3 linked regions of the Homo sapiens genome follow. The protein of the gene in region 1 purifies or fractionates together with the protein of each later gene. This does not show direct contact. Each region holds a gene or a part of one and is shown in the gene's direction. Other genes may lie near its edges.

Region 1 (3,749 bases):
TTAGGAGATGTTTTCCTGTAATAAAATTAAAATATTAAAAGCTCCTTTTTAGTCCATTATTCTGTCTGGCTGGAGGTACTTTTTCCTTCTCCATAGGAAATACCCCTTCTGCCACTAGAGAGATTCCTGCACCCCCACCCTCATCCTTCCGCCCGTAACCTTCCTTTGAACCAGAGCAACTCTCAGGAGGCATTCACAAGGGCACTGCCTCACCCCTCCTGGTTTGGTTTGACATGGAATGTTCGTGCCATCTGTTTTTCTCCGCTTGGATTCCCTTGCTTGATTTGTCACTGAGCAGCAACCTTCAAAATCCTCTCTCAGGTTTTTTTGTTTTGTTTTGTTTTTGAGATGGAGTCTCGCTCTGTCACCCAGGCTGGAGTGCAGTGGCGTGATCTTGGATCACTGCAACCTCCGCCTCCCAGGTTCAAGCGATTCTCCTGCCTCAGCCTCCCCAGTAGCTAGGACTACAGGCGCGTGCCACCACGCCCAGTTAATTTTTGTATTTTTATTAGAGACACGGTTTCACCATGTTGGCCAGGATGGTCTCCATCTCTCGACCTCGTGATCCGCCCACCTCTGCCTCCCACTGCATTCCAGCCCCGGGGGTGACAGAGCGAGACTCCATCTCAAAATAAAATTAAATAAAGGAGATTAAGAAATTACTCAGGCCGGGCGTGGTGGCCCACGCCTATAATCCCAGCACTTTGGATCTGCTGCCCTCTCCCGGCCAAAACATTAGCTGGGCTATAGCCCTAGGGAGGCTGAGTCGGGAGGATTGCTTGAGCCCAGGAGGCCAAGGCTGCAGTGAGCCGTGCTCACGCCACTGCACTCCAGCCTGGGCAACAGAGCAAGACCCTGTCTCAAAAAAAACAAAACAAAAACAAAAAACACCAAACCCAAAAATACAAACCTCAAGCTCCCAGAAGCTAATCATGATATGCTTACTGACATCTAAACTGCAAAGTAGTTGAAATATTAACCTCATGTAAACCCACTTAAGTAAATAAAGCTACATACAAGCAATTCTGTGTGCAGGGTGGCCCGAGGCACTTTAAGGGTTGTGGCTTGGGGATTATTAAGAACCTCCTAGAAATAATTCTTTCCTAAATGGTCAGTTGATGGTGAGCGCTGAAAAGCCGATGGGTACTGCTCGGCCAAGGGATTGAAAAATCGGCCTTTGAGAAGAACAAAGTCAAAATGAAAGATTAGATTATAATTTCTCTGGGGTGGTGCCAGTTGGATCTAGGAAACTTAAACTCGTGAAAGAATGTGCTTAGAGCAGAAGATAGAAGCTGGTGGCTGTCTCTGCTCCCCTCTACCTCTCTCCCGGGTCCTGGGTCTCCCTAGAGGGGCGTCCGACCCGCGGCAGCCCCACTCCCAGCTCGAATCCCTCCCTTCAGGTCGCTCCAGGGCGGGCAGCCAAGGTGGGCCTCCCCAGGCGCTGTGATCCACATTTCACCTCCTAACAACCGGCCTCTCGGCCGGGGTTGAGGACTCAGCGAGGCCTTGACTCCGTGGGTCTGGGCAACAGCCGGCTCCGCCCCGCCCCGCCAGCCGGGTCCCTCCCCATCCCGCGACCCAACGGTCGTTCCCCGCCGCCGGCCCCGCCCCTCCCTGGCCGCCCGCGGCGCGCCGGCGCCTGCGCAGTCGCCCCAGAGCGCCCCGACCGGGATGGCGGCCGTTTTGGAGTCGCTGCTGCGAGAAGAGGTGTCGGTCGCAGCCGTCGTGCGGTGGATCGCGCGCAGCACCCAGGGTTCGGAGGTAACAGCGGTGACACGCCCCCAGGTCTGACTCGAAGCCGGTTCCCGCAGTGGAGTCCAGCCCTCCAGTCCCCTTCCTCTAGGGCGCCTGGCTGCCAGCCGGGCCGAGTGCACTCCAACTGGGCGCCGCTGCCCGGGCCGCCCACCCGAGGCGCGCCCTACGGCCCCGGCTGCTCACGGCCCGCGGGCCGGCGGCTGACCCTCTCGCCCCTCCACCTGTGCTTCTGCCCTAGGATAACGCTGGGGAGGCGGCCGCGCTGAGCTCACTCCGGGCCCTGCGGAAAGAATTCGTACCGTTCCTGTTGAACTTCCTGAGGGAGCAGAGCAGCCGCGTCCTCCCGCAGGGGCCCCCGACCCCCGCCAAGACCCCGGGCGCCTCGGCAGCCTTGCCAGGGAGGCCGGGAGGCCCGCCGCGGGGTAGCCGCGGGGCGCGCAGCCAGCTTTTCCCTCCGACCGAGGCCCAGAGCACCGCTGCCGAGGCCCCTCTGGCCCGCCGCGGGGGCAGGAGGCGGGGCCCGGGGCCGGCCCGCGAGCGTGGAGGCCGCGGCCTGGAGGAGGGGGTCAGCGGGGAGAGCCTGCCCGGAGCCGGGGGCCGGAGGCTTAGGGGCTCTGGCAGCCCCAGCCGCCCCAGCCTCACGCTGTCTGATCCGCCAAACCTCAGCAACCTGGAGGAGTTCCCTCCCGTAGGCTCGGTTCCCCCCGGCCCTACAGGGTGAGACTCAGCTCTCATGCAGGAGATGGGTACCACGAAGGCTCTGGGGAGTCAGTCATTCGAGCTCGGCGCTCCGCAGTGGAGCGCCAGGATGGGTAGAAGGCTGGGGGTGATGGTGAGGGTTTTTGTGGGGTTTTTTGGCAAGAGGTCTAGCTGTTGCGGTGGTGGAGGGGAGATGTTTGAAGATAGGAATTTGAGAAAAACCTGTGGCTACTCTCAGCAGGACGAAGCCTTCTCGCAGGATCAACCCAACTCCGGTGAGCGAAGAGCGGTCACTCTCCAAGCCCAAGACCTGCTTCACCTCACCCCCAATCAGCTGTGTCCCCAGTTCCCAACCCTCAGCCCTGGACACTAGCCCTTGGGGCCTTGGCCTTCCCCCAGGGTGCAGAAGTCTGCAAGAGGAGCGAGAGATGCTCAGGAAGGAGCGGTATGGCCTGGCCGCTCCTGGGGATATCGGTTTCCTCGCTGTGGGGGATCTTCAGGGGTTTTCCCTGAAATTGATTTCCCTCTTGGGGACTCTGGGTTTGTCTCCTGGGCTGTTGGTATCTTCTCTGGAGTGACCTGAGTGTGGCCGTAGCAGGGAAGCCAAGCTGACTGCTCATGAAATTTCTTTATTCCATAGCTCTAAGCAGCTGCAGCAGTCACCTACCCCCACCTGTCCCACCCCAGAATTGGGGTCGCCCCTCCCCAGCCGGACAGGAAGCCTCACAGATGAACCTGCAGACCCTGCCAGAGTGTCTTCCCGCCAGCGCCTGGAGCTTGTAGCCCTTGTTTACTCCTCGTGCATTGCTGGTGAGTGAGAGCGGAGGGAGCGGGAGTGGAGACACTTGTAGAACTTATGGGTAAGAGAATTGGTAAGGCACTTGGAACTGAGCCTTGGCTCCAAATGGTGCCCATACCATGGGCTTTCTTTTTGTATCTATCTAGAGAACCTGGTACCAAACCTCTTCTTGGAGCTTTTCTTCGTCTTTCAGCTCCTCACTGCCCGGAGGATGGTGACTGCCAAGGACAGCGACCCTGAACTAAGTCCAGCTGTCCTAGGTCAGTGAGCAAGCCTCCTTTTGAGACATGGGGTCTAGAAACGGGACCGTTCTTAACTGACAGCTTGGTACTGTCCTTCTAGATTCCCTGGAAAGTCCACTGTTCCAAAGCATCCACGATTGTGTCTTCTTTGCAGTGCAGGTTTTGGAGTGTCACTTTCAGTGAGTTTCCCTGGCTGAGGCATTTGGGCCTCATTCTCATCATCTGCTTAGCTCTCTGGCTGCTTGGGATATATG
Region 2 (3,649 bases), on another chromosome or scaffold:
TTTTTTTTTTGAGATGGAGTCTCACTCTGTCGCCCAGGCTGGAGTGCAGTGGTGTTATCTCAGCTTACTTCAACCTCTGCCTCCTGGGTTCAAGCGTCTCTCCTGCCCCAGCCTCCCAAATAGCTGGGATTACAGGTGCACACCACCGCTCCCTGCTGCTTTTTGTATATTTAGTAGAGACGCAGTTTCTCCATGGTGGCCAGGCTGGCCTCAAACTCCTGACCTCAAGTGATCCGCCTGCCTCAGCCTCCCAAAGTGCTGGGATTACAGCCGTTAGCCACCGCCCCTGCTCTCTAAAATTTAAATAATTAAAAAGTACAGTGCAGGCCAGGTGCCGTGGCTCATGCCTGTAATCCCAGCACTTTGGGAGGCCATGGCAGGCGGATCACTTGAAGTCAGGAGTTCAAGATCAACCTGGCCAACATGGCAAAACCCCCTCTCTACTAAAAATACAAAAATTAGCTGGGCGTGCTGGGATGTGCCTGTAATCCCAGCTAGTTGGGAGGCTGAGGCAGGAGAATCGCTTGAACCTGGAAGGCAAAGACCACAGTGAGCTGTGATCGCGCCACTGCACTCCAGCCTTGGCAACAGAGCGAGACTCCATCTCAAAAACAAAAAAAGTGCAGTACATAAGCCCTCACTTAGTAGCAGTGATAGGTTCTTGGAAACTACAACTTTAAGGGAAACAAGGTGTAACAAAACCAATTTTACCATAGGCTAATTGACATAAACAAGAGTTAAGTTCCTGTGGCATATTCCTGGTCACAAAAACATTACCCAGCTTCTAAATAAAGACTAAAACACTTCTAATACTAAACGTTGAAATGTATATGAGCTTTATATACATTTAAGAAAGTTTAATAGAAACAAGGTAACATTTACCCACTCATTCCCCACTCAGGGTTGAGGGTGGCCAGAGCCTATATCAGCAGCTCAGGGGCAAGGTGGGAGCCACCCTAGACAGGATGCCATCCCATTGCAGGGCGGGTACACACACACACACACACACACACACACACACACACACACACCCCATGTGGGTATGCCGGTGAACCCAACACATGTGCCTTTGGGATGTGGGAGGAAAGCAGAATAACCTGAGAAAACCCACACAGATAGGGGAAGAACAAACAGACTCCACATGGACAGTGGTGCCGACCAGGAATTGATTTTTTTTTTGAGACGGAGTCTAACTTTATCACCCAGGCTAGAGTGCCATGGCGCAGTCTCGCCTCACTGCAACCTCCACCTCCCAGGTTCAAGTGATTCTCCTGCTTCAGCCTCTTGAGTAGTGGGGATTACAGGTGGCCACCACCACGGCCAGCTAATTTTTGTATTTTTAGTAGAGACGGGGTTTCACCATGTTGGGTCAGGCTGGTCTCGAACTCCTGACCTCAGGTGATCCAGCGACCTCAGGTGATCCACCCGCCTTGGCCTCCCAAAGTCCTGGGATTACAGGCATGAGCTGCCGTGCCTGGCCCCCTTTTTTTTTTTTTTTTTTTTTAAATCAGCGTTATAACAAAATGATGTTATTTAAGGGCCTGCTGTATAGTAAATACATAAACCAATAATGTATTCATTTATTATCATTATCAAGTGTTATATACTGTAGATAATTGTTAGGTGCTAGACTTTAATATGGCTGGCAGCACAGTAGGTTTGTTTACACCAGCATCACCACAAGCGCGAGTAATGCATTGTGTGGTGACATCATGACTGCTGGGTTACCAGGTGATAGGAATTTTTCACCTCTGTTGTACTTTTTTTTTTTTTTTCTTCCTCAGTTCATGGGAAGCTCTGTTATACTCTTATGGGACCCCGTCATATGTGTGGCTTAGCATCATTGACCGAAGGGTTGTTCTGCAGTGGATGACTGTATCAAATTCGCCATTCTAAGAAAACTGGGGTTCCATAATTTCACATTTCATATTTTATTAGAATAAAGTAAAGCTAATAGCACTTAAATTGTTTTTGTAAGAAGGATTTAAAAACAAAAAATACAAAGTACTGCTAATTGATTTATGTAACAGATAATGCTTTAACCTAAGGGGTTTACATGCTAAAAATGACCCCTTTGATGTTACCCGAGCATATATACATTTACAGATATGATGTATCAGCTTTAGAGGAGGGGGGAAAATAACCGTCCTTGTTATTTTAAAATCTATGATACTTGAGTATACGTGGAAAAGAGGTGTGATTATCATAGAATGAACTTGAAAGGGATGAAAAGGGTTGACATCCATTCACTTAACAAATATTTGAGCACCTGTTATTTTATTTTATTTTATTTTTGGAGATAGAGTCTCGCTCTGTCACCAGGCTGGAGTGCAGTGGCGCGACCTCAGCTCACTGCATCCTCCAACTCCTGGGTTCAAGTGACTCCTACCTCAGCCTCCCGAGTAGCTGGGACCACAGGTGCGCACCACTACGCCCAGCTAAGTTTTATATTTTTAGTAGAGACGGGGTTTCACCATGTTGGCCAGGATGGTCTCCATCTCTTGACCTCGTGATCCACCTGCCTCGGCCTCCCAAAGTGCTGGGATTACAGGCGTGAGCCACTACGCCCAGCCAGAGCACCTATTATTTTCTCAATGGCTTGGTAGATTCCAGTGGAGAAAATAGGATGAGCAAAGAGAAAAGTCAGATGAGGGACCAGATGGACCTGAATGGAATTAACATGTGGAGACAATAGAGAAATGATTGAATATTTAGGAGGATCTTTGAAGAGTTCTAAAAGGCAGGCCAATATACCTTCTTGTTAATTTTCCCTTTTGTTTACAGGCATGCATGTAGGGAATACCGGATTCATAAAGAGCTGGATCATCCCAGAATAGTTAAGCTGTATGATTACTTTTCACTGGATACTGACTCGTAAGTGCTGTGCTGTTTTACCTTAACAGTTATATTATTTTCTTGCAATGCTGATTGTTCATGGAATAGAGCTGAACTCTGGGTCCAGGACATACCCTCTGAGGGAACCAAGTAATTTGTGACAAATGATCAAACATAAATTCAGATTTGGATCAGCAAGAAACCTCTAGGCCAAAGGACATGTGCACTTGTGTGCCAGTAAATGTTTAACAGCCAGCTTGGTATGAAGAGAGACAGGGCTAATTTATAGTGTTTGCCAGTTTCCGTGGTGTAGATATTCCTCCTGTGTCTAATTTTGATGTACCACCTGTTTATTTTTGTTTTTTTTTAAACATCTTAATTATAATTCACATACTGTATGATTCACACATGTAAAATATACAGTTTAGTGGTTTGTAGCATATTCATAGATACATGCAACCACCAGAGGCAATTTTAGAATTTTTTCACCATCTCAAACCCCATCATACCTTTTACTACTATTCATCTATTCCACCATTCCATCCCTCTGCCCTAGCCCTAATCTGTCTGTTTTATCTTTATAGATTTCCTATTCTGGACCCTCATATGCATGGAATCATATAGTATGTGGACTTTTATTACTGGCTTCTTTCACTTACCATGGTGTTGTCAAATTTCATCCTTGTAGCCTGTGTCAGTACTTCATTCCTTTTTATGGCAAAATAATATTCCATTGTGTGGATATACCACATTTTGCTTATAACGGTTTGATAACCAGCTCACAAAATTCTTGAAAATTTAAGTCAGCTCTTGG
Region 3 (3,649 bases), on another chromosome or scaffold:
TGGCTTAGAATTGGCTTTGATAGCAGCTTCATTGCTTCAGTAGTGATATTGGACCACAGTTTTGTCGTCTGCAAAAAGTCTTAGGTTGGCTTTTGTCCCCTCGTGCCATTAAAGCAGTATTGTTTAAGGTGATGTATATCTACATGCTAAATTAATCCTGTCATTCTTAGCTTTCTAACTAGTTCTTAGTTGGTTTTTTTTTGTTGTTTTTTTTTTGAGAGGGAGTTTTGTCACCCAGGCTGGAGTGCAGTGGCACAATCTCTGCTCACTGCAACCTCCGCCCTCCCGGATTCAAGCAAGTCTCTTGCCTCAGCCTCCCAAGTAGCTGGGACTGCAGGTGTGTACCACCACACCTGGCTAATTTTTTGGGGTTTTGCCATGTTGGCCAGGGTGATCTCGAACTCCTGACCTCAGGTGATCAGCCGGTCTCGGCGTGAGCCACCGTGCCCGGCTGCAGTTATGATTTAATACTGCATCTTTGTTCATTTACATATCTCAACTGTGGATGGTGCCGTGTATGGTCTGTGTGTTTTGATGAATTTTAACTTTTTATAATTTGTATTTTATGGTAGTGAAGAAGACTAGTACCTACATATCTTTTATGCATTGATTACATACATTTTGTTAATTCAACATTTCTAGGCTATGAGGTTTGTCTTGAGTTTTTTCATATATATATATATATATATATATATAATTAATTTTTTGGAGAGAGAGTCTTGTTGTCTTGCCCAAGCTGGAGTGTAGTGGCCAGATCTTGGCTTACTGCAACTTCTGCCTCCCCTGTGCAAGCGATTCTTGTGCATCAGCCTCCCAAGTAGCTGAGACTACAGTTTACAAAAATTAGCCGAGCATGGGTAGCAGGGTCCTGTAATCGCTTGAAACCGGGAGGCAGAGGTTGCAGTGAGTCGAGATTGTGCCACTGCACTCTAGCCTCAGAGCAAGACTCCATCTCAAAAAAAAAAGGGCCAGGTGGTGTGGCTCACGTGGTAATCCCAACACTGTGGGAAGCCAACACGGGCATATCACTTGAAGCCAGGAGTTCGAGACCAGCCTGGCTGACATGGCAAAACCCCGTCTCTACTAAAAATACAAAAATCAGCCAGGCGTGGTTGCGCATGACTGTAGTCATTCAGAGTCTAACTCCGTTGCTCAGGCTGGAGTGCACTGGTGCGATCTAGGCTCACCGCAGTCTCCACCTCCAGGGTTCAAGCAATTCTCCTGCCTCAGCCTCCCAAGTAGTTGGGATTACAGGCGCCCGCCACCACACCTGGCTAATTTTTGTATTTTTAGTAGAAATGAGGTTTTACCATGTTGGCCAGGCTGGTCTCGAACTCCTGACCTCAGGTGATCCACTCACCTTGCCTTTCCAAAGTTCTGGGATTATAGGCGTTAGCCACCGTGCCCAGGCTACACTTCTTTTTTTAAAATTAATTTTTTGAACTAGAGAAGGGGTCTCATTTTGCTGCTTAGCCTGGTCTCAAACTCCTAGCCTCAAACAGTCCTTCTGCCTTCCAAAGTGCAGGGATTATAGCTGTGAGCCTAGCCTTGAATTTCTGTTAGCAATGTATGGGAGTACAATTTCTCCTTAACCCTATCTTTGACTATTCGATGGGTAAAACATACTTTCTAAGTATAGTTTTTTTGTTTCTCTTAAGAATGAGCGGCCGGGCGCGGTGGCTCACACCTGTAATCCAGCACTTTGGGAGGCCGAGGTGGGCAGATCACGAGGTCAGGAGATCGAGACCATCCTGGCTAACACGGTGAAACCCCATCTCTACTAAAAATACAAAAAAAAAATGTAGTCCCAGCTACTTGAGAAGCTGACGCAGGAGAATGGCGTGAACCCGGGAGGCGGAGCTTGCAGTGAGCCGAGATCGAGATCGCGCCACTGCACTCCAGCCTGGGCAACAGTGCGAGACTCCGTCTCAAAAACAAAAGAATGAGCAGTAGCAGGTGGTCAAGTGTTTGTTTGTTTGTTTGTTTGTTTGTGAGTGTTTATATTAAATCCATTAATCTATTCCCATTGGGCTTTTTTATCCTGTTGACTAAGATTCTATGTATATTTGCTAAGTTAACCTTTTGTGAAATGAATTAGATGGAGTAGAATCTGTCAATATCCTATGGTTTCTGGTTTGTTTGTTTATTTATTTGAAACAAGGTCTTACTCTCTCACCCAGGCTAGAGTATAGTGGTATGATCATAGCTCACTGCAGCCTCTATCTCCTGGGCTCAAGCAATCTTCCCATATCAGTCTCTGGAGTAGCTGGGACTACAGGCATGTACCACCATGCCCATCTCATTTTATTTTTGGTAGAGATAGGTCTCGCTGTGTTGCCCAGGTTGGTTTTTGAACCCCTGAGCTCAAGCAGTCCACCTACCTAGGCCTCACAAAGTGTTGGGATTACAGGAGAGAGCCACTGCACCCAGTCTGGTTTCTGGGTTTAAAACGGCCTTCTCCAAACAAATTACCAAGTAATTTCCCTATCATTTCCTCTAGTACTTCTCTGGATTCATGCTCATTCTAAAAATTCATAATGAACGTCATAAAACTATGAAGCCATAGCTTCATAGTTGTAAATGTAGTGACTATTAGAATTAACATTTTAAAAAATAACTGGATCAGGCTGGGCGCAGTGGCTCACACCTGTAATCTCAGCACTTTGGGAGGCCCAGGCGGGAGGATCACTTGAGGTCAGGAGCTCGAGACCAGACTGGCTAACATGGTGAAACCCCATCTCTGGTAAAAAACAGAAAAATTAGCCAGGCGTGGTGGTGGGCGCCTGTAATCCCAGCTACTTGGGAGGCTGAGGCAGGAGAATGGCTTGAACCCAGAAGGCAGAGGTTGCAGGGAGCTGAGATGATACCACTGCACTCCAGCCTGGGCAACAGAGAAGGACTGTCTCAAAAACAAAACAAAACTGAATCAGACATACCTATTGCCCAGATAGGACATGAACATCCATTTATAATTTTTATTCTGATCCAGTAGTCCTCAGAGCATGGTTCTAGAAACCAGCAGTGTGTCACCTGGGCAGTTGTTAGAAATGCAGATTCTTCAACCTTACCTCAAACCTTCTGACTCAGAAACTGTAGGGGGTGGAGCTCAAACTGTTATAACCGTTCCTCCAAATGGTTTGCATACAGACTAAAATTTGAGAAACACTGCTTTAATTCATCTTTTTTTCCAACTATACAAGTACTGCCTTAGTTCACCCTCTTTTCTATTTGTCTAGGCTTGTGCTAAGCAAGAATAGAAATAAATTTATCGGCCGGGCGCGGTGGCTCACGCCTGTATTCCCAGCACTTTGGGAGGCCGAGGCAGGTGGATCACGAGGTCAGGAGACGAGACCATCCTGGCTAACACGGTGAAACCCTGTCTCTACTAAAAATACAAAAAAATTAGCCGGGCATGGTGGCCGGTGCACAGGCACCGGCCTGGCACCAGGCCCAGGCTGAGGCAGGAGAATGGCGTGAACCCGGGAGGCGGAGCTTGCAGTGAGCCGGAGATCGTGCCAGGGCACTCCAGCCTGGGCGACAGAGCAAGACTCTGTCTCAAAAAAAAAAAAAAAAAAGAAAAGAAATTTATCACTGATAAATGCTTTACAATGATACTTAATAGTGTTTTTACTGGTTCCTTGCTTTTAAT

What was found.
Region 2: the proteins of CDAN1 (region 1) and TLK2 purify together in Homo sapiens (affinity purification with mass spectrometry, with the first as the bait; one large-scale study listed by BioGRID). This does not show direct contact.
Region 3: the proteins of CDAN1 (region 1) and NASP purify together in Homo sapiens (affinity purification with mass spectrometry, with the first as the bait; one large-scale study listed by BioGRID). This does not show direct contact.

The regions. Positions count from the first base shown.
Region 1 is NC_000015.10:42,735,025-42,738,773, reverse strand, and holds the start of CDAN1 (codanin-1), read left to right. Parts: upstream 1-1,645; 5' UTR 1,646-1,671; coding exon 1,672-1,761; coding exon of another isoform or gene 1,762-1,785; intron 1,786-1,993; coding exon 1,994-2,472; intron 2,473-2,692; coding exon of another isoform or gene 2,693-2,695; coding exon 2,696-2,899; intron 2,900-3,094; coding exon 3,095-3,264; intron 3,265-3,399; coding exon 3,400-3,513; intron 3,514-3,595; coding exon 3,596-3,674; intron 3,675-3,749. UniProt on the Homo sapiens protein: May act as a negative regulator of ASF1 in chromatin assembly.
Region 2 is NC_000017.11:62,593,801-62,597,449, forward strand, and holds part of TLK2 (serine/threonine-protein kinase tousled-like 2), read left to right. Parts: intron 1-2,784; coding exon 2,785-2,874; intron 2,875-3,649. UniProt on the Homo sapiens protein: Serine/threonine-protein kinase involved in the process of chromatin assembly and probably also DNA replication, transcription, repair, and chromosome segregation. Phosphorylates the chromatin assembly factors ASF1A and ASF1B.
Region 3 is NC_000001.11:45,586,993-45,590,641, forward strand, and holds part of NASP (nuclear autoantigenic sperm protein), read left to right. Parts: intron 1-3,649. UniProt on the Homo sapiens protein: Component of the histone chaperone network. Binds and stabilizes histone H3-H4 not bound to chromatin to maintain a soluble reservoir and modulate degradation by chaperone-mediated autophagy.